Linked DNA regions of Homo sapiens: all the other regions are linked to region 2. The links come from fine-mapping of genetic effects on gene expression. A gene starts in region 2. Each other region holds a variant in brackets. All regions are shown on one strand. Distances are from middle to middle. Region 1 holds the start of LOC105375426 (a long non-coding RNA gene). Region 2 holds the start of STAG3 (STAG3 cohesin complex component). Region 3 overlaps GIGYF1 (GRB10 interacting GYF protein 1).

What was found.
Region 1: its variant is fine-mapped to the expression of STAG3 in prefrontal cortex (GTEx, PIP 0.99).
Region 3: its variant is fine-mapped to the expression of STAG3 in whole blood (GTEx, PIP 0.96).

The regions. Positions count from the first base shown.
Region 1 is chr7:100,262,313-100,270,483 of GRCh38, forward strand. It overlaps LOC105375426 (a long non-coding RNA gene), which reads right to left and starts at 5,172. Exons shown (of 2, transcript XR_927809.2): 1 at 4,304-5,172; 2 at 2,555-2,818. It also overlaps the pseudogene CASTOR3P. RefSeq lists enhancers at 6,967-7,489, 8,014-8,171. The variant C/T (reference allele first, on the strand shown) is at 3,231.
Region 2 is chr7:100,173,915-100,182,063 of GRCh38, forward strand. STAG3 (STAG3 cohesin complex component) reads left to right here and starts at 4,004. Exons shown (of 34, transcript NM_001282717.2): 1 at 4,004-4,091; 2 at 6,579-6,758. The coding sequence starts at 6,643. It overlaps GPC2 (glypican 2), which reads right to left and starts at 3,467. Exons shown (of 10, transcript NM_152742.3): 1 at 3,120-3,467; 2 at 2,293-2,451; 3 at 1,658-1,980; 4 at 771-851; 5 at 1-83. The coding sequence starts at 3,285. RefSeq lists silencers at 3,429-3,548, 3,729-3,778.
Region 3 is chr7:100,684,774-100,692,944 of GRCh38, forward strand. GIGYF1 (GRB10 interacting GYF protein 1) reads right to left here. Exons shown (of 27, transcript NM_001375765.1): 2 at 3,819-4,782; 3 at 3,678-3,742; 4 at 3,431-3,534; 5 at 3,208-3,337; 6 at 3,015-3,110; 7 at 2,732-2,843; 8 at 2,525-2,633; 9 at 2,233-2,273; 10 at 1,876-2,046; 11 at 1,407-1,660; 12 at 1,201-1,306; 13 at 571-708; 14 at 276-373; 15 at 1-121. The coding sequence starts at 3,465. Among named protein-coding and RNA genes, the nearest start is that of GIGYF1, 5.4 kb to the right of the region's middle. RefSeq lists a silencer at 6,974-7,143. The variant C/T (reference allele first, on the strand shown) is at 4,273.

The DNA.
Region 1 (8,171 bases), 88 kb after region 2:
ATTTCATACAAGTGGGATCTCATGCAGTATTTGTTCTTTTGTGACTAGTTTATTTCACTCAGCATGATGTCTTCAAGGTTCATTCATGTTGTAGCATGTGTCAGAATTTCCTTCCTTTTTCCCCTCTGAATAATATTCCTCTGTGTGAATACATCCCATTTTGTTGATCTGTTCATCCATCAGTAGACACCTGGGTCACTTCCACCTTTAGGCCTTAGTGAATAAGGTTGCTGTAAATGTGGGTGCATGGCCAGGCGCGGTGGCTCATACCTGTTATCCCAGCACTCTGGGAGGCCGAGGCTGGTGGATCACTTGAGGTCAGGAGTTCAAGACCAGCCTGGGCAACATGATGAAACCCCATCTCTACTAAAAATGCAAAAATTAGCCAGGTGTGGTGGCGTGCACCTGTAATCCCAGCTACTCGGGAGGCTGAGGGACCAGAATCGCTTGAACCCAGGAGATGGAAGTTGCAATGAGCCAAGATCGCACCATTGCACTCCAGCCTGGGTGACAGCAAGACCCTGTCTCAAAAAAAAAAAAAAAAAAAAAAATTGGGGTGTGCAAGCAAAACCTCAGGTTTTCGAGCAGAGATCTAGCTCAGAGGTTGGAGTATGTTCAATGTGTTATGGTGAGGGCAAGCCTGAGTATATATGGCACCTAGACACCAGTTTTCCATTTAGGCCAGGCACCGTAGCTCACACCTGTAATCCCAGCACTTTGGAAGGCTGAGGCAGGAGGATCACTTGGGTCCGGGAGTTCGAGACCAGCCTGGGCAACATAGCAAGACCCCATCTCTACAAAAAAAACAAAAATTATCTGGGTGTAGTGGTGAGTGCTTGCAGTCCCAGCTACTCAGTGGGGCTGAGGCAGGAGGATTGCTGGAGCCTGAGAAATCGAGGCTGGAGTGAGCTGGGATTGCATCACTGCACTCCAACTAGGGTGACACAGTGAGACCCTGTCTCAAGAATTTTTTTCAGGCCAGGTGCGGTGGCTCATGCCTGTAATTCCAGCACTTTGGGGAGGCCGAGGCGGGCGGGTCACGAGGTCAGGAGAGCAAGACCATCCTGGCTCACATGGTGAAACTCCGTCTCTACTAAAAATACAAAAAAATTAGCCGGGCGTGGTGGCAGGTGCCTGTAGTCCCAGCTACTCGGGAGGCTGAGGCAGGAGAATGGTGTGAACCCGGGAGGCAGAGCTTGTGGTGAGCCAAGATCGCACCACTCCACTCCAGCCTGGGGGACAGAGCCAGACTCTGTCTCAAAAAAAAAAAAAAAAAGAATGTTTTTCAAAAAGTTTTAATTTAGCACCGTGGATGGCCCACAGGGACCTTGGACACCCAGAATCCCACTGGCCCAGCGCGGATGCAACTGGGCTGGTTTCTCATACTGCAGATCTGTTATAAGAGAAAACCTTTCCAGCTGTGTGCAGGCTCAGAAGAGACCAATTAAACCTTTTACAAGGTTTTTTTGTTTTTGTTTTTGTTTTTTCTGAGATGGAGTTTCACTCTTGTCGCCCAGGCTGGAGTGTAGTGACATGATTTTGGCTCACTGCAACCTCTGCCTTCTGGGTTCAAGTGATTCTCCTGCCTCAGCCTCCTGAGTAGCTGGGATTACAGGCGCCCGCCACCACGTCGGCTAATTTTTGTATTTTTGGTAGAATCGGGGCTTCACCTTGTTAGCCAGGCTGGTCTCGAACTACTGACCTCAGGTGATGCACCTGCTTGGCCCTCCCACAGGTGCCAGGATTACAGGCGTGAGCCACTGCGCCCAGCTACAACTGACTTTTTTGATCCCTGGGAGATAAGTCAACACCGAGGGACGACCGGTCCTAAGCCCTGGACATGGACCTGGGGGTGAGGACAGAAGGGGATCAGGACCAGCCCTCTCATCCTGCACCCTGAGGCATGGGTGATCCCAGGAAGCCACTCACCAGGCACCAGGGTGGCTTCCTGGAGGAGAGGATGCTGAAGCCGACCTCAAGAAGTGTCTGTGTTAGGTTTAAGGACTCATGAGAGTTCTCTGGCTGGACTAAAGGTAGCATGATCACATAGTCAGGTTTGCCCTATTGTCTGCAGGTTGTTGTTATTATTGTTAAGATGATGATGATGATGATGATGATGATGATGAGACAGAGTCTCATTATGTTGTCCAGGCTGGAGTACAGTGGTGCAATCTCGGCTCACTGCAACCTCTACCTCCTAGGCTCAAGGAATCCTCCCACCTCAGCCTCCTAAGTAGTTGGGATCACAGGCAGGCGCCATCATACCTAGCTAATTTTTTTGTATTTTTTGCAGAGTCGGGGTCCCACCATGTTGCCTCCGCTGGTCTCCAATTCCTGAGCTCAAGCGATCAGCCTAAAGTGCTGGGATTACAGGCTTGCTGGGATTACAGGCATACTGGGATTACAGGCATGAGCCACTGCACTTGGCCAACCTAGTAATTATTTTAAGTACTTCCTGCTATTCTAAAAAATGTTTGTTCCCGTCTCAATGATAAATGGCAGGGTCATTTCATTCCTTATCTGTTGCTACATAACAAATTACCCCAAATCTTAGTGGCTTGAAACAACAACAAACTTTTATTATCTCTCACAGTTCCTATGGGTTAGGAATTTAGGTGTGGCTGAACTTGGCAGTTCAAGGCATTGGCTGGGGCTGCAATCCATTGGAAGGCTTGCCTGGGGCGAAAGGATCTGTTTTCAAAGCCCCGCTCTGCCGGTTGAGGGTGGGATGCCTCAGTTCCTCTCCATATGGGCCTCTCCATGGGGCTGCTTGGGTGTCCTCAGGCCTTGGGGGTTGGTTTCCCACAGAGCAAGGGATCTGGGAGAGAGGGAGCGCCACGCAGAAGCTATCGTTTTGTGCCCTAGCCTCGGAAGTCTTGCGGTATTGCTTTTACCATCTCCTAGTGACTTAGAAGAAAGTAGCCAAGACAGACATTTAAAGGAGAGGGGGGTGGAGGGATCCTAGCTTTTTTTTTTTTTTTTTGACACGGAGTCTGGCTCTGTTGCCCAGGCTGGAATGCAGTGGCGGGATCTCGGCTTCACGCCATTCTCCTGCCTCAGCCTCCTGAGTAGCTGGGAATACAGGCGCCCGCCACCACGCCCAGCTAATTTTTCTATTTTTAGTAGAGACGGGGTTTCACCGTGTTAGCCAGGATGGTCTCGATCTCCTGACCTTGTGATCTGCCCTCCTCGGTCTCCCAAAGTGCTGGGATTACAGGCGTGAGCCACGG[C/T]GCCCAGCCGATCCTAGCTTTTAAAACCACCAGCAGCTGGGAGCAGTGGCTCATGCCTGTAATCCCAGCACTTTGGGAAACCAAGAAGGGAGGATCACTTAAGGTCAGGAGTTTGAGACCGGCGTGGACAACAGAGTGAGACCCCCTCTGTACAAAAAAATCTAAAAACTACCACAGTTGGCCAGGTGCAGTGGCTCATGCCTGTAATCCCAGCACGTTGGGAGGCCAAGGCGGGCAGATCACTTGAGGTCAGGAGTTCAAGACCAGCCTGGCCAACTTGGTAAAACCCATCTGAATTAAAAATACAAAAAATTAGCTAGGCATGGTGGTGGTACCTGTAACCTCAGCTACTCAGGAGGCTGAGGCAGGAGCATCACTTCAACCCAGGAGGCAGAGGTTGCAGTGAGCCGAGATCGTGCCACTGTACTCCAGCCTGGGAGACAGAGTGTAACTCCATCTCCAAAAACAAAAGCAAAAGCAAAACAAAACAAAACTACCATGGTTACCTAAAATAGAGCATGTGTTGGGAAGGGAGTAGACAGAGCCAGAGTGGATAGACAGAAGACATCTGATCAAGAAAGAATTCAGGCCGGGAGTGGTGGCTCACGCTTGTAATCCCAGCACTTTGGAAGGCCAAGGTGGGTGGATCACCTGAGGTCAGGAGTTTGAGACCACCCTGGCCAACAAGGCAAAACCCCGTCTCTATTAAAATACAAAAAATTAGCCAGGCATGGTGGTGCATGCCTGCAATCCCAGCTACTCGGGAGGCTGAGGCACAAGAGTCACTTGAACCCAGGAAGCAGAGATTGCATGCAGTGAGCTGAGATCACGCCATTGCATTCCTGCTTGGGTGACAGAGTGAGACCCTGTCTGAAAAAACAAACAAAACCAACAAGGCAGAGATGTGGCCAGGGATTCTGAAGGAATGCATGAAGTCGACCCAGCACCCACTCCAGTTGTGTCCCTCCATCCTCCCGGACTCCCCCCCTGCCCCTGCACTCCCAGCCATGCCCCCTGTGCGGGCCTCTGGTCCTCTCACCCTCTACCTTTGCTGGAGAACACACAGGACTCACGTCTTTTCCTCCCATGGGACAGAAACTCCTTTCGCGCTTCCTATTAGGCCTTGCCTACAGCAGGTACACACTGCTGGGTTTCTGCGTGAACAGAGCATACCAATTTGCACCCACCACAGGACAGCGGCTTGTTCCCTGCAGACACCTTTCTCTTTCCAGCCTCCAGGCGTTTGCTCCTTCAGCCCAGAGGGATGGGGCAGCAATGAGCATTTGGGCTGCCCTAGAGGCAGGAGGCAGGAAGATATCTGGATAGTTCAGGAAAGAGATAAGGACAAAGGAAAAAGTCATAGGAAAAAGATTTGGGAGCTAGGGTTGAGCCAGCCCCTTTCTCTAGGCAGCAGCAGACTATGGCTGTCCTGAGTGGGCACACGCACGGCTCTGGGGCTCACCCTGTACACTCTTCACCCATACCCCTCCCCTGATCCATCTGTACCCACCCACTCCTGTTCTCTGCTTGCTCATCTTGCTTTATCCCCAGCACCTCCTGACATTTTCTCATGCCACCCATCACCCCATTCTTGGATCAGATGATGCCGCCTCCTCTAGGAAGCCTTACTGGCTTGCAGCTCTGTGGTCCTAGAGCATTTTGGCTGCCCCTGCCAGAGGCCTGACACCTAAATGACAGGTGAGGTCCTTGGCTTAGTTCTGTGAGAGCAGTGACAGCATCTCCACTTTCCAGAATCAGGATGCGTTATGTGTGTGTGTAAAAAGTCTTCTAAGCCTGGGCTTTTCTGGCTCTGCCCTCACAAACTGGTGCTGGCCAGTGGCCCCAGGGCCTTCCCAGTTAATGCTTAATGGCTGGGTACAGTGGCTCACACTTGTAATCCAGCACTTTGGGAGTTCCAGGTGTCTTTACTAAAAACACAAAAATTAGCCAGGCATGGTGGTAGAGAGCTGTAATCCCAGCTACTTGGGAAACTGAGGCAGGAGAATCGCTTGAACCTGGGAGACAGAGGTTACAGTGAGCTGAGATCATGCCACTGCACTCCAGCCTGGGCAACAGAGCAAGACTCTGTCTCAAAAAAAAAAAAAAAATGCTTATTGGAGCTTCTAGTAGACCAGATACTCTTGAGAGTGCTTGGCGTGGTTTATCTCATCAAGCCCTCACAACCACTTAGGTTGCAGGCATGATCATCATCCCTGTTTTACAGGTAAGAAACATAGCACAGAGAAGTCAAGCAACTTGCCCAAGGTCACACAGCCAGGATGAGCAGTGCTGGGATTCCAGCCGAGGTGTCCCAGGGCTCTAACTCCCTTGGGCTAGCCTGTCTTTCCCTAAAGGGCAATCAGACAGTGGCCTCAGCCCAATGTGCTCCGAGGAATGACGAGGGCTCTGCATGGACTTTTTGCAATTTTAAGCTTTTCTCTCATAAATGCCTCTTAAGACGTTAGTGTTCACTGGCCAGGCATGGTGGCTCACGCCTCCCAGCACTTTGGGAGGCCCAGATGGGCGGATCACAAGTTCAGGAGTTCGAGACCAGCCTGACCAACAGCTCATGCCTGTAACAGTTTAAATGTTATGTCCACACGCACCTCTGAGAGGCTGAGGTGGGAGGATCATGTGAGGCCAGGAGTTCAAGGCCAGCCCGGGCAACACAGTGAGACCCCCATCGCTACAAGAAATTTAAAAATTAGCTGAGTGTGGTGGTGCGCACCCGCAGTCCCAGGTGCTTGGGAGGCCGAGGTGAGAGGATTGCTTGAGCCTAGAAGTTCGAGGCTGCAGTGAGGTATGATGGTGCCACTGTACTTCAGCCTGGGCAACGGAGACCCCATCTCTTAAAAACAAACAAACAAAAAGCTCTAAGATCTAGTGCCACCTCCTACAGGTAGGCACCCAGCCTTCTAGGTACCCTGCTAGACCAGCCCTTCCCTGACTCCACCCTGCTGTAGAGTGATGGCCTCTTTCTTTCTCTTCCACCAGGCTCTAGGGCTTGGCAGAGGAAGGGGCAAGGTATCTCTGCATCCCTTGGACCCAGCCACACCCCCACACAGAGTGAATGTTTCCTAATGCCATTCCCTTTCCACAACTCCACTGCACGAGAGAGAAGTGACTTAAGTCTGCTAAGGGGCGGAGGGAAAGGTTCAGGAAGGTTTCAGCGTGCTATCATTAGCTCTTGAGGATTGAATAGGAATTTACTAGGGGTGGATGGGGGAGAATATTCCAGGCAGATGGAAGAGAGGTAGATACGAAGGCACAGAGGTATGTAGGGAACAATAAGGGAAATTGTGTATTTGCTGGGGGAGGGCTAAAGATGAGGATTCAAGGCCAGGAGCAGTAATCCCAGGACTTTGGGAGGTCGAGGTGGGAGGACTGCTTGAGCCCAGGAGTTGGAGGCTGTATTGATCTATGATGGCGCCACTGTACTCCAGCCTGTACGACAGAGCAAGACTCTGTCTCTAAAAGAGAAAAATAAAAAACAAAAAAATAAAGATGAGGATTCAGGATCTAGATCCCAAAGGGCCTCGAATGCCATGTCAACGATTTGATGCTATAGAGTGACTGACAAAACTGTAACCGGGCCGGGAGTGGTGGCTCACGCCTGGAATCCCAGCACTTTGGGAGGTGGAGGCCAGTGGATCACCTGAGGTCGGGAGTTCAAGACCAGCCTGACCAACATGGAGAAGCCCCGTCTCCACACAAAATTAGCCAGGCGTGGTTGTGCATGCCTGTAATCCCAGCTACTCGGCAGGCTGAGGTAGGAGAATCGCTTGAACCTGGGAGATGGAGGCTGCAGTGAGCTGAGATGGCACCACTGCACTCCAGCCCGGACAAGAGCAAAACTCCATCTCAAAAAAAAAAAAAAGAAAAGTAAACAGGTGGCACAGGGACCCTCAGGGCATGCTGTCCTAGTCTGGGCTAAACGTAGGTTTTGGAGAGGGAGGTGACAGAGCTATGGGTCACCACCTGGGGGCAGGTATTACAGGAAGAATCTAAGGGGTTCTACCTGGATGGCTGATTATTGAAAACAGTTTAAATGCTATGTTCGCAGGCTGCGACCCATTAACACTTGCTAAAAAGCCATTTCCCACAATCGTCCCACACCATCCACACAGCAGTTCTGTGTCCATGAGGGGGCCAAGTAGTGCTATCTCTATTTTACAGACGGACAAAGTGTGAGCCAGAGGAGAGACTTTGCCTCAGCCACGCAGGCAGCGGGCTCTGGTCACACATGACCTGAAGCCACGATCCGGGCTCAGAGTGCTTGGGGTGGCAGGTCCTCAGGCATTTGACGAATGTTCCGCACCTTCTGAGGCCGGACCATGGAAACAGAGATGGCCTTTGGCCTCTGAGTCATCTTGAAACTGGACTAGTCAGCTGGGTCACCTGGGCCTGGGACAGGACAGGCTGCTTTCTGCAGGAGGGAGGAAGGGGGACCCACTGAGGGACAGGTTTTCTTGTGTTCCCAGAGGCCAGCAGGGGGGCTTGACCCCAGAGACACGCCTATCCATGAGTACCCAAAGGGGACCCTGAGTTGGGGGCTGGAAGAAGGCCAGTCTCTCCACCAAGGGAAAGGGGCTGAGGGACCCTGCCCTTTGCTGCCTTTCTAAGAAGCCCCCAAATGCCCCCTCCTTCCAGCACCCAGGCCCTGTGCACAGCCGCAGCCTGAGTCATCATCCTCATTTGAATGGTGGCCGAGAAATCAGCCAGGGGGCTGCCCAGGGCTGAGGGCCAAGACTTGGAAAAACAAGGCTGTTCTGTTACCTCCAAGCCTTGGAACGTCCAGCCCGGCTAGGGAGTGGGGGGCAGAGGGCAGGCAGAAGCAGGATCTGAAGGTGTCAACAGCCAGAGGGGGCTTTGTGTGAGGGGTGGGGGCGCGGTTCAGAATCCGAGCTGTTGGCTTTTGTTTTCAAATGACCTGTTTAATCA
Region 2 (8,149 bases):
GGCATAAGTGAGGGGACCCCCCGGCACAGGGGACAGCCGATGAGACGCATCAGAGCCTGGCTGCAGCCTTCAGACACCGGCACCTGGGGGCAGAGAGTGGGGCTGTGTCCTCCACAAACGCTGTGGCTGCTCTCAGCCTGGCTTGGTGCTGGGCACAGACAGAAATCACATACCCCACCCTACACCTAGGGTTGGTGACCCCACGTGGCAGCAGGTGAGATTGTCACAGATCTGAGGAGGGAGGTTCCAGGTTGCTGACTCTGATTCGTGGGAGGGGTGGAAATAGAGAGGCAGTTAGGGGTGGAGGGAACATTCAAGGACAAGAGTGAGCCCATCACAGCTGGGGAGGGAGGAGGCGGTCAGGAGGCAGAAGGTGAGGCTGGGAGGTCAGGTAGAGGATGGGCAGTGAGAGAGGCCAAGCCAGGCATCTGGCCTTCAGCAGCAGGGAAGTGGAGTCATTGAGGGATCCTGGGGGGTTGGGCGGGGGCAGTATCCAATCTCCTACTGCTATGGAGATGAGCAGGCCCTTGGGGACTGAGGAGGGTATGGGTCCACAGAGGGGAGGAGGGGGTCAGAGATCATGGATCGTGGACCATTGGAGGTTTCACTCCAGCCCCCTCCTTCCTAATTCATCCTAGGACACCAGGGCCTGGAGGCAGACAGAGCCCAAGGCCTGTCCTGCTGGCTGGTGGCTGTTTCTTCCTTGTGGGGTCTCTCTCACTTCCACCTCTCCCTCCCTGGGCCCTGCCCATACTCAGGCACCCTCCAACCTTAAGCGCTTCGCTGACCACATTTCTTCCAGTCTCCAGGCCCTGCACAAAGGCTCGGGCAGCCACCAGGGTCCGGGTTATCTGGGAGAAGGCAAAGAAGGTGAGAAAAACCACAAGGTTGTTATGGGTCAGTCAAGACTGGAGCCAAGAGACTGCATCAAGAGCAGTGAGGGTTGGGTGTGTGGGGTTCTCTCAGAGTGGGTCGAGTGTTGGGTGGTACAGAGAGGCAGGTTCAAGAGCCCCCACAGGAATTATAGTCTTAAAGAAAAACAAAGGAAGGCTTGGGAAGAGATGGAGGGATTATGTTGTACAGGGCTTAGAGAGAGAGAAATTGTGTATCGGAACTAACACTGAACTTGAAGCCAGAAGACCTGGGTGTGAGCCACGGCTCTGCCACTTACTGGCTGAAAAGCTTAATCTCTGGGAGCCTCAGTTTTCTCATCTGTAAAATAAGGGCATGACTGTCTACCTCACAGGGTTATGATGACAACTAAATGTGATACTATAAAAGAAAATGCCTTTTGCGTATTGAATGCACAATTCCTGTTTAGTTGAACCAGAGGAAGTCAAGGTGTTACGATTAGGAAGGGGTTGGCACAAAGGTGGCTGGAGGCTAAGGGCAGGTGAGTGTTTGTGTGAAACTAGGGCTCAGAATGGGAGGTGGCAGGGGTGGGGGCATCTGCTTCAAGAAGACCAAGGGGCACTGGGTCGGGCAGTGGTGAGTAAAGCTCAGGATAGGGATCACCAGGTCAGAAATGGCTTCAATGCAGGATGGGGGATCACCAGGTCAGAGGTGACTGGAGCACGCCAGTTTGGAGGTGAGTGGTGCACAGTTCAGGGGTCACTAGGTCAGAAGTGGTTGAAGCTCAGGCCTCAGGATCCCTCACCTGCAGGCGGAGGCGGCGGGGTGAGTCCCCAAAGGGCTGCAGAGAGCCATCGGTAGATGAGGCCAAGCGTGAGAGGCAGAGCAGGTAGTCAGGGGGGAAGCTGTACTGTGGGTGCAGCAGCGGGAACACTCTCTCCAGGAGCTGTGCCCAGAAATCCGCCAGGGTGTCATCCAACCCCTCACCAGATTCCCCATAGAAGTCTCGCAGCCGAGAGAACAGGCCATTGAATATGAGGGCGTGCTGGGCATACAGGCGGCCGTAGGAGTGGGAGAAGAGCTGGGTCAGAGAGTGCTGGGCTACTGAGAGCATCTCCAGAAAAAACTCTGCAGCAAATGCAGGGAACAGGTGGAAGGCAGGTCAGGCCAAAGAATGGGGAGAAAAGTGAACAGGCAGAGGCAGGAGGAGATGGGAGAGAAGAGAAAAGACAAGTGAATCAGAAACTGAGTAACTCTCAGAGATGGGGCAGACAGGGAATGGGGGAGGGCAGGGCCCTGGAGACAGAGTCTGGGGGGTGGGCGGGCTGGGAGGGGATGGAGTCTTCACAGATGGAGTAAGGAGTGGGGACAGGAGCCTTGCTGGGGTCCTAAGCACCGAGAGGAGCTGTGAAGCTGAGTTTGGGGACCCCAGGTCCTCACCATCAAATTTTCTGTGCCTGGCAGCCAGTGTGTGAACCAGAAAGGAGCCGCTGTCCTCCACCAGGCCTCGGAAGGTGGCCTCAGTCTCCCTGATCAGCCTCTGCTCTGTCTCACTGGAACAGCAGGTGTACTCCTGGGGACAGACCCGGAGGTGCTCACCTGGACAGAGGAGACGTGAAGGAATGGTGGGAAGTGATATCCTAAAATCCCTTCCATTTCCCGCCTATCTCTGGGGACTATGCCTTCTCTTCTACCTGCCTGGTCTCTTTTCTATTGTCTGCACCCTCTTCCCTACCTGAACCTATCCCCTACCTTATTGTCTCCTGACCCATCCCAAGTTCACTCCCATTAGCCACGGGATCATCTATTTAACAGCTGCCCTGAGGGCCAAGTCAGTGGTCAGAGTGTCCTCAGGTGACCCTCCCCAATGTCCACACCCCAGACCTCGAGGGACTTGGAGAACAGCTTCTAGGGGATGAAGAATGGGGCTTGGAAGGGTGGGGTTACTTGGTGAGCAATAAAGTATTCTCATAGAAGGGGCTAATAGAAACAGCGAGGAGAACATGGCTGTGAAGAAAGAAACACATAGGGGGTGTTAATTAGGAGGAGGGGATTCCTGGGGTGGGGATGGAGTAAGAGCGCTATTCTTTGCATAGGAGGGTTATTGTGATCCCGGTAAGGAAGTTACAGGAGGAGAACAGACATTACTGTGGGATGAAAAGATTAGTATAACGGTCACTCTGAAAAGGAAGAGAGTTATTGTGAGATGAGGAGGCCCCGCCCCCGCCCCCCACCCCCAATTCTCTAGTCTTCCTCTTTCTCCTCACCTGAGATCAGGGCGGGAGGGATTAGGTTTAAGCTATATCCCCGGGCCCCCAGCACCTGCCGGGTCTCTGCACAACTCCGGGTGACCTTTGCCTCGCTCCCGGGTCCGGGACCAGGACCGGGACACAGAGGCAGCAGCAGAAGCAGGAGAGGTCGCAGCGCGGACATAACTGCAGCCACCCCAGGACGGCAAAGTGGGTCCTAAGGAGGAAAGCAGAGCCTCCCAAACTCGGGAATCCGGTACTCGGCCGCGGGACCGCTCCGCGGGCCAGAGAAAGAGCGCTGCTCCGGAAAACTGAATACCGAGCACGATAGCTGGACCAGGCGGCATCTGCCGAGACAATGGGAGCGGGGAGCCGGACAGGGGGCGGGGCCCGAGGCGGGGCCCCGCCAATAATGGCTCGGAGCCGGCTTCAGGGGCGGGGGCAAGGAAGAAATTAAGCCAATGTAGCGCGGAAGCTCGGCAGGGGGGCGGGACCCGGCTGGCACTCAGGAGGTTGGTGAAATAGGGGCGTGGTCTCCCTCGGGGGCGTGGCGATCCGGCTCAAAAGGCGGGGCCTGGGTGGAACCTAGCCTATGGCAATTGAGAAGCCAGATTAAAGGGGTTACTAGCAGTCTGGTCCAAAACCCGCCCAATGGAGTAGGAGATTGAGGGTAGCGGGGGTGGGACCTGGGTGGGGGCGGGGCTAAAGCGGGCCGCCCGCGTGCCCAAGCCCACGTGAGAGGGCAGGACGCCTGAGAGCTTGAGGCCACACGAGGCTGTGGAGCGGCGTGACTCAAACGTGGCGCGCATCAGCTCGCACACTTCCAAACCTCGCGATAGCTACTGGCCCTGGGCGAGCCGTTGGGATTGCGCTTGCGCACAGCGTGTCTTGTACGTTCCCGCGCTTTTCTGGAATCTTTCGCCCCCGGAAGGGCAGCGGCGGGCGCCTGTGTGGAAGGTGGGGTGGCCAGAGACACCCGAGGGACCTGAGGTGGGGACCTTCCCTGAACCCTGCTCGGCCAGAAGTCACTCTTCCAGGCTCTGACAGGTTTCTCCTTGACCCAAGAATAGGCCCTCTCGCGACCCTCCCGGCCCTGACACTAGGAGCCTTCCCGGGCCGTGCCCCAATGGCCTCCGCCACAGAGCTGGAGAATCCTCTCCCCAGGCCTCCATAGACTGAGAGTCCATTCTCTTAAGCGCTTGGAAGGCTCTTTATCCTGGAGCCGCTTACCCCAGGGGCAGTCGTAGATATTTTTACCTTCTGGAAAAATAGGAAACGCGCACCTGCCTTTCCTCCTTTTGCGTTTCCAGCCCTATTCTCATGGCGCCTCCACCCCCAAATCCTTAAGAGCCTCCTGTTCCATTCCAGGTGGAATCAGGTGCTAGTCCTCTGGAAACGAAAGCCTGGGGTCTTCTTGTATTTTTTTTCTTATTTCTTTCTTTATTTTTTTTATTTCATTTTAAAAAACCTGTAAGTTCCCTTGCAGAGGGCGGTTTATACTTCCGAAGCCTCCAGAGAGGGGTGCGTCTGAAGCTGCCCTGCTGTCTGCCTTGCTTGGCTTTTTTTTTTTTTTCCATTTAATTTTTTTTTTTTAGAGACAGGGCGTTGCTATGTGGCCCAGGCTGATCTTGAATTCCTGGACCCAAGCGATGCTCCCGCTTCGCCCTCCCAAAGTACTGGGATTATAGGCGGGAGCACTGTGCACCACGCCTCGGCTTTTGGAGAGCAATTCCAAACCCACTGCCCAGTTTCTGGTGTCTGTAATCCCTTGGTGCTTTAGGTCCACTCTTTGCCTTATTTTATTTATTTGTCATTACTTTTTTTTTTTTTTGAGACAGAGTCTCGCTCTGTTTCCCAGGCTGGAGTGCAGTGGTGCAGTCATAGCTCGCTGCAGCCTCGACCTCCTGGGCTCAGGCGATCGTCCCGCTTCATTCTGCCGAGTAGCTGGGACTACAGGTGCACCACCACACCTGGCTAGTTTTTTTGGTTTTGGTTTGGTTTTTTCGTAGAGACAGGATCTTGCTATATTGCCCAGACTGATTTTGAACTCGTAGGGTTAGGCAGTCCTCCTGCTTCAGCTGCTCAAAGTGCTGGGATTCCAGGTTTGAGCCACCCTGGGCACCTTGCCTTTTTTTTTTTTTTTTTAATTATGAGTTAAATTCCCTTGCAGCAGGCAGTTTACACTTCTGAAGCCTCTAGAGAGGGCTGTGTCTGAAGCTGCCCTGGTGTGTACCTTGCTTGGGTTTTGTTTTTTTTTTTTTGGGTGTGTCTCATGTTGCCAAGGCTGGTCTCAAACTGCTGGGCTCAAGCAGTCCTCCTGTCTCAGCCTCCTGAGTAGCTGGGACCACAGGTGTGCGCAACAACACCTAGCTAGTTTTTGCTTATTTTTTGTAGAGATGGGGTCTTGCTATGTTGCCCAGATTGGTCTTGAACTACTGGGCTCAAGCAGTCCTCCCGCCTCAGCCGCCTAAAGTTCTGGGATTACAAGTATGATCTACCACACCCAGTGTGCAATTTTTTTTTTTAAAGAAAATACCTATGAGTTAAATTTCCTTGCAGTAGGCAGTTTGCACTTCCACAGCCTCTAGAGAGAGATGTGTCTGAAGCTACCCTGGTGTGTGACTTCCTCAGCTTTTGGAGAGCAACTCCAAACCTGCTGGCCAGTTTCTGGGGTGTTGTTGTGCTTAATCCCTTGATGCCTTAGGTCAGCTCTTTGTCTTATTTATTTATTTATTTTGAGATGGAGTTTCACTCTTGTTGCCCAGGCTGGAGTGCAGTGGCACGATCTCAGCTCACCACAACCTCCGCCTTCTAGGTTCAAGCGATTCTCCTGCCTCAGCCTCCCAAGTAGCTGGAATTACAGGCATATGCCACCACACCCGGATAATTTTGTATTTTTAGTAGAAATGGGGTTTCTCCATGTTGGTCAGGCTGGTCTCGAACCCCTGACCTCAGGTGATCTGCCTGCCTCGACCTCCCAAAGTGCTGGGATTACAGGCATGAGTCACTGTGCCCAGCCATTTGTCTTATTTATCATTACTATTTTTTTGAGGGGGGACAGGGTCTTCTTCTGTCACCCAAGCTGGATGGAGTACAGTGGTGCGATCGTAGCTCACTGCAGCCTTGAACTCCTGGACTCAAGCAATCCTCCCACCTCAGCCTCCTGAATAGCTGAATACAGGCATGCTCTACCACACCTGACTAATGATTATTATTATTTTTTTTTTAGAAATGGGGTCTTGCTGTATTGCCCAGGCTGGTCTTGAACTCCTGGGCTCAAGCCATCCTCCTGCCTTGGCCTCCCAAAGTGCTGGGATTATAGGCATGAGCCACGGTGCCCAGCCTTTGTCTTAGTTTTTGGTCCCCCTCACCTGACCCCAGAGTTCTAGAACCATTCCCTTGGAAAGAAAGGGACTGGTCAGGGCTGGGGATGGAGAAGTGCTGTGGTAGGAGCCCTTTCTTCTCTTTCTTCCCCAGCTGGATCGCCATACCTACCCTGTGGTCCTCATCTTCCTGGCCTCATAGCTCCTCCTCTCCAAGCATGTCTTCCCCGTTGCAAAGAGCTGTGGGAGATACCAAGAGGGCCTTGTCTGCATCTTCTAGTTCCTCTGCCAGTCTACCCTTTGATGACAGGGACTCAAACCATACCTCAGAGGGGTAAGTAGATGTTGCATTGTGTGGCCACTTCCTGTGTCCCTGGCAGCCTTCCCCCTCGTTTTCCCACATTGATGATAATATGCGTGGGACTGTGTGAAAACACCAGAAGTGCTATACTCGTTCAGCACAGTGACACCCTCCCTCCAGCTCCAGGTGTTTTTTTTGGCGGTCCTAGATGTTGTAGACATCAAAATAGTAGTACATCCTGTTTTTTTTTTTTTTTTTGAGACGGAGTCTCGCCCTGTCGCCCAGGCTGGAGTGCAGTGGCGCGATCTCGGCTTACTGCAACCTCCGCCTCCTGGGTTCAAGCACATCCTGTTTTTAATCCATCATCCATCTTGTCTAAACCTCTCTTAAACACATTTCTATGTTCAGCATGTACCAACCCTGGTGGGGGCTGAGAGCTGGCAGATGGGGGAGTAAAGAGTTCTTTATTTGTTGCCTGGTAAATTGTATATACTTTTTGGCTAGTGTCCCCTATTTCTTCTACTTGGGGATTTTGTAAATAGGTCTGTGTATCCTTATTTATTACCATATATGAGTTTATTCTGTGTAGGTTATAATAATATATCTTGGTTTTTTACCTTTCCAGAAGGAAAAAAGCGAATTTCATACAGATCTGCTTTATCCCCTGGCTGTTTTAATTGGCTTTCTCTGAATCATTTCTGTTTCTGTCAGTGCTGCTGTGGGGGACCAGATTATATCAAAGTTATAAACTTGAATTGATAAGACATGTGGTTTATGTTTCAAGGGGGTGAAATTTAACTCTAGATACATATTACTCTCCCATTTATGGATGAATGATAGATGACTTCCTGAGCCATGATTATCTTTCTCTACAAAGAGCAGTGATCTCGCTACCTGCTAAGTGAGTATCATTTGATTCTCTTCTTCGGAGAGAATACTAGGAAGAGTTGTCCTTCTCCTGCCTCATTTCCTCATTCTTCATCTCCATTGCTTTCATGTGAAAGTTTTCCTTTAAGGCTTTGTCCCGGCCGGGTGTGGTGGCTCATGCCTATAATCCCAACACTTTGGGAGGCCGAGGCGGGTGGATCACCTGAAGTCAGGAGTTTGAGACCACCTTGGCCAACACGGTGAAACACCTGTAATCCCAGCTACTCGGGAGGCTGAGGTAGGAGAATCGCTTGAACCTGGGAGGCGGAGGTTGCAGTGAGCTGAGATCATGCGATTGCACTCCAGCCTGGGTGACAAGGGTGAAACTCCGTCTCAAAAAAAAAAAAAAAAAAGACTTTGTCCCAACTTCCTACTAACAATAAGCTCATTTTTTCTTAAAATCTGGATATGTTTTTCTCATGGAGATGGGGTGCGGTGAGAGACAGAGAAACCATAATTAATTAGCCTTTTATATGGAGGGAATAGGGTGGTTATAT
Region 3 (8,171 bases), 510 kb after region 2:
GGCTGAGCGGGAGGGCAGTGGCGGCTGCAGAGTGGCGCAGGCCCTGGGTCTGCATGGCAGCCGTGAACTGCTCCTCCTCCAAGGAGCTGTCCTGCAGGGAGGCCACCAGCTTCTCCGCCTCCTGGATGCCCAGAAAAAGAAGAAAGGCTCAGCTGCCAATCTCAGCAACATCAGGATGGGGATGGGGATGGAGCTTGAGCTGGGGCCGGGGCTGGGGCCAAGCAGGTCAGGTCAGAAGTGGGAAGGGTCCCTCCCGCTTTCTCAGGCCCCCACACCTGCTGCAGGTGCTTCAAGCCTTCATCATCCTCCAGATCTCCGGGTGGGCCAGCAGAGGAGCCCACCCCGGGACTCAGCTGGATCCCCCGAATATCATCTGGAAGGCATGAGATAGGAGGTGGAAAGAAGGGCGGGGAGGAGACAAGATAGCTTTCGCCTACTCTCACTCCAGAACACCACGCTCTTGCCATGGCTCCTCAATGTGAATGCCCTGTGTGCCCACCCCCACGAGTGGGGAGCACTTTCTCCCACAGCCCCAGCGCACCCGGGAGGTAGGCCATCCTCCCTTCCTACCTTCGGCCGCTGGGGGCTCTTTCTCTGCAGTTTCGTCCCCATCCCCGTTTGTCCCCCAGAGTGGGCCCAGGGTGGGCAGTGGGGATGGGGAGCTGGACTTCTCCTCCTGAGGAGGCAGTGGGGTCAGCTCTTTCCCACCTAGAAGAGGGAGATGGCCAGAGTTCAGAACCAAGGGCTGGGCCTGCCACGCGAGTTAGCACAAGCCCTTGAGTGTGGCTGGAACCGCGGGTCACACTCCCTTAGGCCGAGTCCACCACTTCACTTGGGTCAACTCAACTAATGGCAGAGGGAATGCGGTGCCCTGACCCTCGCCTCCACGCTGCCAGACGCGGCAGGAACATATCACAACATCGCACAACACCACACAACACCGCAGACGTCACTCCAGGTTCTACAGCTTCTTCAAGGGACTTTCAAAGGTCATTTTGATTACGCCTGATTTCTATCTGGTACACTGCCTTGAAGACATGGCTCTGCTACCCCCTGGTTCCTCCCCACCTCTCAGCACTCTTCTTCCAGATCTAAGTAGCCTGATTCTACAGGTAGGTGGGCAGCCAATGCCCAGCCCGGCAAAGAACACCAGTGCCTGCCCGGCCCAGCCCCAGGCCCGCTGGGCACCCCGCGGCTCACCTGCCTCAGGCCCTTCCTCCTCTAGCCCTTCGGAAGGTTCCTCCTCCTCCTCCAACCCTTGGAAGTCCAGCTCCTGCTCCTCAGGAATGGGCTCCTTGGGGCCCTTCTGCATGGGGCCGGGGTGGGGAGCAGAGAACAGCTGGGGTGGGTGGGGAGGAAGAGGACCCCGGAAGGGCAGGTTCCCACCCTCGCCTCCTCACAGATACCTTGAGAGGCAAGAAGGCCCCAGAGGCATCAAAGGTGCCCATTTCTTCATCCTCATCGTCCAGGCACCACTCTGGGAGCCCATCCTTGTCCTCCTCAAAGCCTTCAGGCGCTCGGCACCGCCGCAGGTGAGAGCTGCCTCCCCCTCCCCGCCCCTCCTCTTCACCACACCCTCCTCGATCCCCTCGCAAATCAAATTCAAACTTGCGCCGCCGTTCCCCATGTTCCCGCCAGCCAGCAGAGCGGGGACCACCATCTGCACAGGAAAAGTCAGGGAGAAGAAGAGTGGGTACCCAAGCGAAGCCAGCGGCCCCCTCTGCTGCAGCTCACGGAGCACCTCCAGGGCTGCTGTCCCGGCCACTCCCACACCAGCCAGCCTCTGCTCCCTCCCCGTGGCTACAGGAGCCCACCCTCTCATTACAGTTCCTGCTCCCCACTGCCCCCGCCAATGCTACCAGGCCCCAATCTCACCAGGGCTGGCGGAGCGCCAGCGGTCGCCGTCTCGCCGGGGCCCTGCTCCGAGCCTCCAGCTGCCCTCCTCCTCCTCCTCCTGTTCCTCCCGTAGGGAGCGCCAGTTCTCGCTGTCTGAGCGGGCGTGCTCCTTCCTTGGGCCAGCCCCTCCCTCCTCAAAGCCACATCGTGCTGGGAGACGGGAAGACAGGGGCAGTTATTAGAAAGGCAGCGTGGTGCCTGGACCCTCAAGAAACGTTGGGGGGGCCAGCTCCAGGCCCTCCTGCCCCCAACACCTCCGAAATAAGCACCCCCAGACTGGGCCACCCATCTTGGTCCTCCCTGCCGCCCCGGCCGCCGCCCTCAGCAGCCTCGTACCTCCATCCCGCCTTGCTGACTTCTCAAACCGCCTCTCGCCTCTGCAGCAGGGGAAACGTGTGGGTCAGAAACAGTACAGCCTCCCCTGCCACCCTGTGCAACCGCCCCATGCCTTGTCCACTGTGCCCTGAGGCAGTGGAGGGAGGAAGGGGACAAACGAAACCAGGGGTCAGGAGCACCGGGATCTCGGACAGGGCTTATCTGGTGGGCCTCTGTTACCCTCTAGCGACAGGGCCCAGGCCTCCCCTCCCTGGCCTGCCCGGCTCTGCGCCATGCCCCCTCCCCGCCCCACCTGTCATCCCAGCTCTGGCTGCGCTGGATTTCCCGGGGGCTTCGTCCAAAGGCCCCATCGCCTTCTTCGATGCTTCTTTGGTAAAAGCAGCTGTCACCACGGCCGCGGCCTAGAGAAGAGGCCAGACGCACAATGAAACCTGCTGCACGTTCTCGAAGTCAGGGGCCCAGATCTGCCCGTCCCCAGGACACGCCATCACCCCTCTACCTCGGCTCCGCGTGCTGCCCCTGCCTCGGGAGGTGCCAGCCAGGGGGGGGCCAGCCCCTTTCCCCATCAGCCTCAGCACAGCCACGCTGTTCACTGACAGGGAGAAGTTTCTCTGAGGAGGGAGCCAGGGGCGGGAGTGAGGACCCAGGCACCCAACCACCTCCACCCCCACCCCACAGCACCCTCCCCGCCTGTCTCCTCAGCGCTGGCCCCTCTCCTCCTAACCCAACCCATGGCCTCCCCTCCCAGGCTCCCGCAGCCTCAGCTCCTGGCCCGGTCCCACCTGTTCCTCCTCAGTCAGCGGCTCCAGAGCCAGGGGCTGCAGTGGCTCGTCCTGCAGCACCGCGGCGAACTCCTTGTCCTGCAGCTCTTCCGGGACCTGGCAGTGGGTTGGGACAGCCAAGACACCACATGCTGCCAGATCCCCTCCACAGGCAGAGGCCACCACCGCCAACCCCCCTCGCCCACGCACCCACCTTGTTCTCCTTGACGTAGAGAGCCAGCATTTCCTCTCGCCCATAACGGTAGTCAGCCAGCTTGTATTTGGGCATGGCAGGGGACGGGGGTGGGGAGGCCACGCTGCCGCCCCCGGACAGGGCCCTGAGCCTGGACACAACACAGAGAGAAGAAGACAGAGGTCAGGGCAGCCTGACTGTGCTTTCTCGAATCTCCACGGCAGCCGAGGCACAAGTGACTCACCACTCAGGCCCAAAGTTGAGTGTCTCTGCTGCCATCGTGGGGCTGGGCGTGTTTGAGAGGCCGGGGGTGGGGAGGAGGGGACCTGGCGTTCACTGTCCAAACACCTGTGGGGGAACAGGGGCCATGAAGAACAGCACACGAAGGAGAACTTTAAAGCGCAGGGAGGACACCATGGGGGACATCCTAGTGGGCACAACAATGGGCCCCGGACTAGCTGGTGGGTCACCTGGGGTCTAAAAGGACTCACCTGAGCCAGCCACGTGGCCACTCACACCATGAGTTACCCAGAGATGAGTCCAGACGGTGAAAGACCTGGGGGAGGCGAGGAGATGGGAAGCTCGAGTCCTTTCGGCCTCAGCAGGGCAACCACCCTTGGCCCGGGGCTCACCTGGCAGCCTGGCCCGGGAAGAAGGAGGGCAGGGGCTGGTGCTGGAGTGAACGAGGGTACCCAAGCCACTGGGAATTGGTCTGACCTCAGTAGAGCCTGGGAGGGACCTTCACATCTGGGAAAGACCCTTAAGGAGAGCAGGGGGGAGGAGGGAGGGTTCAGGACATGGCTCTGCCGGCAGCCCTGCCCTGCCCCGCATGACAGGAGAGGTCCATTCGCCGGATGGTGTCTCTGGGCATCAGCACCCTCGCCACCCTCTCTGGGAGGCTGAGACAGGAGGTGTAGTGAAGAACTCGGGGAGGGAGGCAGCCGAGGCCAGGATGGACGTTCAGGGCAAAGATAAAACAAAAACAAGCAAGCAAACAAAAACCCACTAGAGCCACAAATAGCTTACAGAGAAAAGGTCAGTTACGGAGAAAAGGATTAGAAATAAATCTAGGAGCAAAATTCTTTC[C/T]CTCATGAAAAAAATCAGTTGGCTGCTCAGAAGCTCAAATCCAGGGGCTTGGTCTGGGGAGAAACCCAGTGAAAAGGAGCAGGAGGTGACTCTAGGGCCACAGACGGGTACACGACAAGGACTCCAGGCAGGCAAGCCTGAGCCAAGGCACCTCGGGCTGGTTTCCCCCACAGGAATCACACCCAGACCACCGCCCCCAATCAATAATGGAGGCTTAAACAACCAAGCCACCAAGGGAACGAGGATCTCAGGATACCAGCTGGGAAGCAGCCTCTGGCACCATCAGGTGGAAATAAGGTCAGGGCAATGGAGGCTGATGGGGGCGCGGCGGCAGCCTGTTCCTCTAAGGGAGGATGGAGGGGACTTTCAGGAGGAGGCGCATCCCTGGGGCCCCAGGCAGAGGACTCAAGCGGGTGGGCGGGGTCCAGGTGCTGCGGTGTTGTCACTGGCTGGGAGGGAGGCTGGCCCGGCTTGGTGCTGCAGCTCCCATCAACTCCAGGACGCCACAGTCTGGGAAAGAAGAGGAAGCGGGTTCAACCAGGGTGCTGAGGAGGAAAGGCCATCAGCCCCAGCTGAGCCAGCAGCCCATGACAAGCCGAGGCCTGCTCAGAGTCCAGGCACTCCAGGGGGAAACACCGGGCTCAGAGGCAACCCAAGGCCAGGCTGGCCTCCCCTGGGACCTCTCCTTCCTCTGCCTCGGCTGGATGCTCCAGTGGTGGTGTGTTCCATGACATGAAAAGCCACCAGCCTGTCACTGACTGCAGGTGGCCACCTAGAGCAATCTGGGGACTGGATGAGCCTTGAGGACATCACGCTAAGAGAAACACACCAGCCAAAAAAGGAGAGCTACCCCTTACTTCTCTTTCATGAGGTCTCTAGAGCAGTCACTCATTGAGGGAGGAAGGTAGAAGGGCAGCCACCAGGGGCTGAGGGGACAGGGAGCTGTTGCTGAAGGGTCCAGAGCCTCAACTGAGGAGGGGATCCTGGGGCCGCTGGTGGTCATGGCCGCACACCAATGTGAGTGTACTTAGTAACACAGAATGGCACAATTAGAGACAGTTAAAGTCTCCAAATTTTGTTGTATATTTTACCACAATAATCATTTTTTTAAAAAAGCTTTAGGGAACAAAAGGTATCTGGAGATAACCACCGCATACCTAAGTTTTCCCCACTCCAAGAAAAACACCCCACATTCCTTCAAATCAGCCTCAGGAGAGGCCATTTTGGGCCTCCTCCAGTTCATTCCTTCTAGAAGGCCAGAAGCTCATCCTGGAGGCATGAGGGTGGGAGAGAGTAGAACAGAAAAGGGACCACCTGGCCAGCACAATGGCTTATGCCTATAATCCCAGCACTGTGGGAGGCTTGAAGAGAGGAGTCCGAGACCAGCCTGAGTAACAGAACAAGACCACGACTCTACAGAAACAATTCTAAACATTTTTTAAAAAAGAAAAAGTGGCCAGGCGTGGTGGTTCATGCCTGTAATCCCAGCACTTTGGGAGGCCAAGGCAGCCAGATCACCTGAGGTCAGGAGTTTGAGACCAGCCTGGCCAACGTGGCAAAACCCTGTCTCTACTAAAAATACAAAAATTAGCCAGTCCTGGTGGTAGGTGCCTCTAATCCCAGCTACTCGGGAGGCTGAGGCAGGAGAATCGCTTGAACCCAGGAGGCGGAGGTTGCAGTGAGCTGAGATTGCGCCCCTGCACTCCAGCCTGGGCAACAGAGCAAGACTCTGTCTCAAAAAAAAAAAAAAAAAAAAATTTAAAGCGATGGCCTCACACTGCCCCCTGCCAGGCGCAGCAAGGGCAGCTCTCCTAGGTGCCTCCGGCTCAAGTCACCCATCCTGGCTGTGTCTTGGCTGCAAGGGGCACACAAAGGGGGAATGGTTCATGCAGACTGAGGACAGCGACACCAAGACAGGGGAGAGAGCAGGCCCAGAGCAGGAAAAAGCCCATGCCACCCGCCTTCTTGGGAAGAAACCAGGAGAGTGAGGTTAACTCTCTAGGCACCCCCACAGCAGGGTCTGGTGCCGGAAGCTGATGGTGCCTGGCCCCTTCCTTGGACTAAAGGAACTAGTGGCACACCTGCAGGCCACCATGGGGCTCCCACCCTCCAACAGGTTCTGGACTGGGGGCACCTCTGCTCCTCAGGGGGCTCTTGGCCAAGTCTAGAGACATTCTGGGTTGTCACCACTGGGCAGGGGGTGCACAGGGCAGCCCCACAGCCAAGAGCTATGTGACTCCAGATACCAAGTGCGCCAGTGCTGAGACACCCTCCTCTGCGCCACGAGCATGGGCACAGCCCTTGGGGGTCTACTGGGCCAAGGGGAAGGCAAGGGAAGGCAGGTGTGTGCACGCTGGGTCATTCTCCTCTCTGAACAGCAGGGACATCATTCCCTAATTACACTGTCCCACGAGGGAAATCTGAAATCCTGCCAGGAGAAAATCTTTGAGAAAAGAATAGATTTTTTTTTTTTAAGAAAAACTGCCTAAGTTTGTCTATTGCAAGCTCTCAGGGCCAGGTATCTGATCCCTGTCCAATGAAGGTAAGAGCAGGAGGTGGCGGGGGCTGGGGTACTGCCACCTGCCCGTCTCAGCTTACCCGGCTGAGCTTTCTCAGCTCAGGGTCTCCTTCTCACAGGCCCCTTCCAGCCTGTCCCCCGCCCTGGCCCTGCCCTCAAGCCTCGGCCTACTTCGGCTCCTCGCCCCTTCCCCACCCCTTCTCTTTCTCGGGCCTGTCTACCCTCACTCCCCCAGCATCTGAATCAATGCTTTTGAAAGACTGCCCCCTGCCGGAGACAAGGGGCGAGGACACGCTGGGCCCGGGTGCTCCAGTAGGCGCCAGGGCGCGCGGGAAAGGGAGCCTGCTCTCTGGGGCTCAGAACTCAAGAGAGAAAGAAAAGACAGAGAACAGGCGGTCCCAGTGCACATTCAGCTAAGAACATTATCTCCTCACTCCATCACCCCTAAAATTAGCTCCAACACAGAGCACTGTGCCTTGGCACAGAACAGAGCCACTTAAACAGAAGCACAGTCCCCAATTCCTCAACACTGGAACAACCGCCCAGCCCCAGGCCTGCTGGAGGGGACCTGGCCCTTTCTCAGGATGGAGATTCTCCAAGCGTGGTAGGGTGAGGACGCTGAGGCTTAAAAAAGAGATGCAAACCCGCATTCTTCGCGGCTGGTCGGTTATCCCAGCTCTCTCCTCTCTGAGCCATCCCAGCAAATCACACCACCGCTTGGCAATTGTCTACAAGTTAACAGTTTTCAAAGGATTTTCACTCTTTACCTCCTGTGATCCCTTTTGCCCACTTGCCCAGCCTTGGGCTCCAGCCAGGGAAAAGAAGGAGGAAGCTGCTCCGACAGCGTGCCCCGACATCCTTGACACTATGCAAGACTGGAGGTGCGCACGGTAGCAGTAACCATCCCAAACTCGCAAGCATTATTCTGTGAGTTTGAAGCCATTTTACATTTGTTAGACTTTCAACATCCTTCATCTAGCCTCCTCCTCTCATCTTCTCTCCTCTAAAGTGGGCTATTTTTCTTTAATTCCCAAATTCCAATAGCAGATGTAAAAGTTAGGGCTAACGCATCAGATCACGAACACAAGACTGATGTGTCCAACAGCAGAAAAAGCTAGTCCAGAAGTTTAAGCACATGGTCCACTTGACTAACCACCACGTGGGACCCTCAGGGCCCCTGGTCCCCAGGCAATGGCAGGGACACCAAGGCCAGGTCTACCCTCAAATCCTTCCCAATGGCACGACAGACCGCTGGGGGACCAAGACCTACAATCTAAGAAAATCAGATTGGAGCTGGCTAGCCTGGTGGAGGGTGGCTAGCCTAGGTCTGCAAAGGGCACAGGAAAGATGGGAAGGAGAAAGAACCCCAAATCCCCCATGT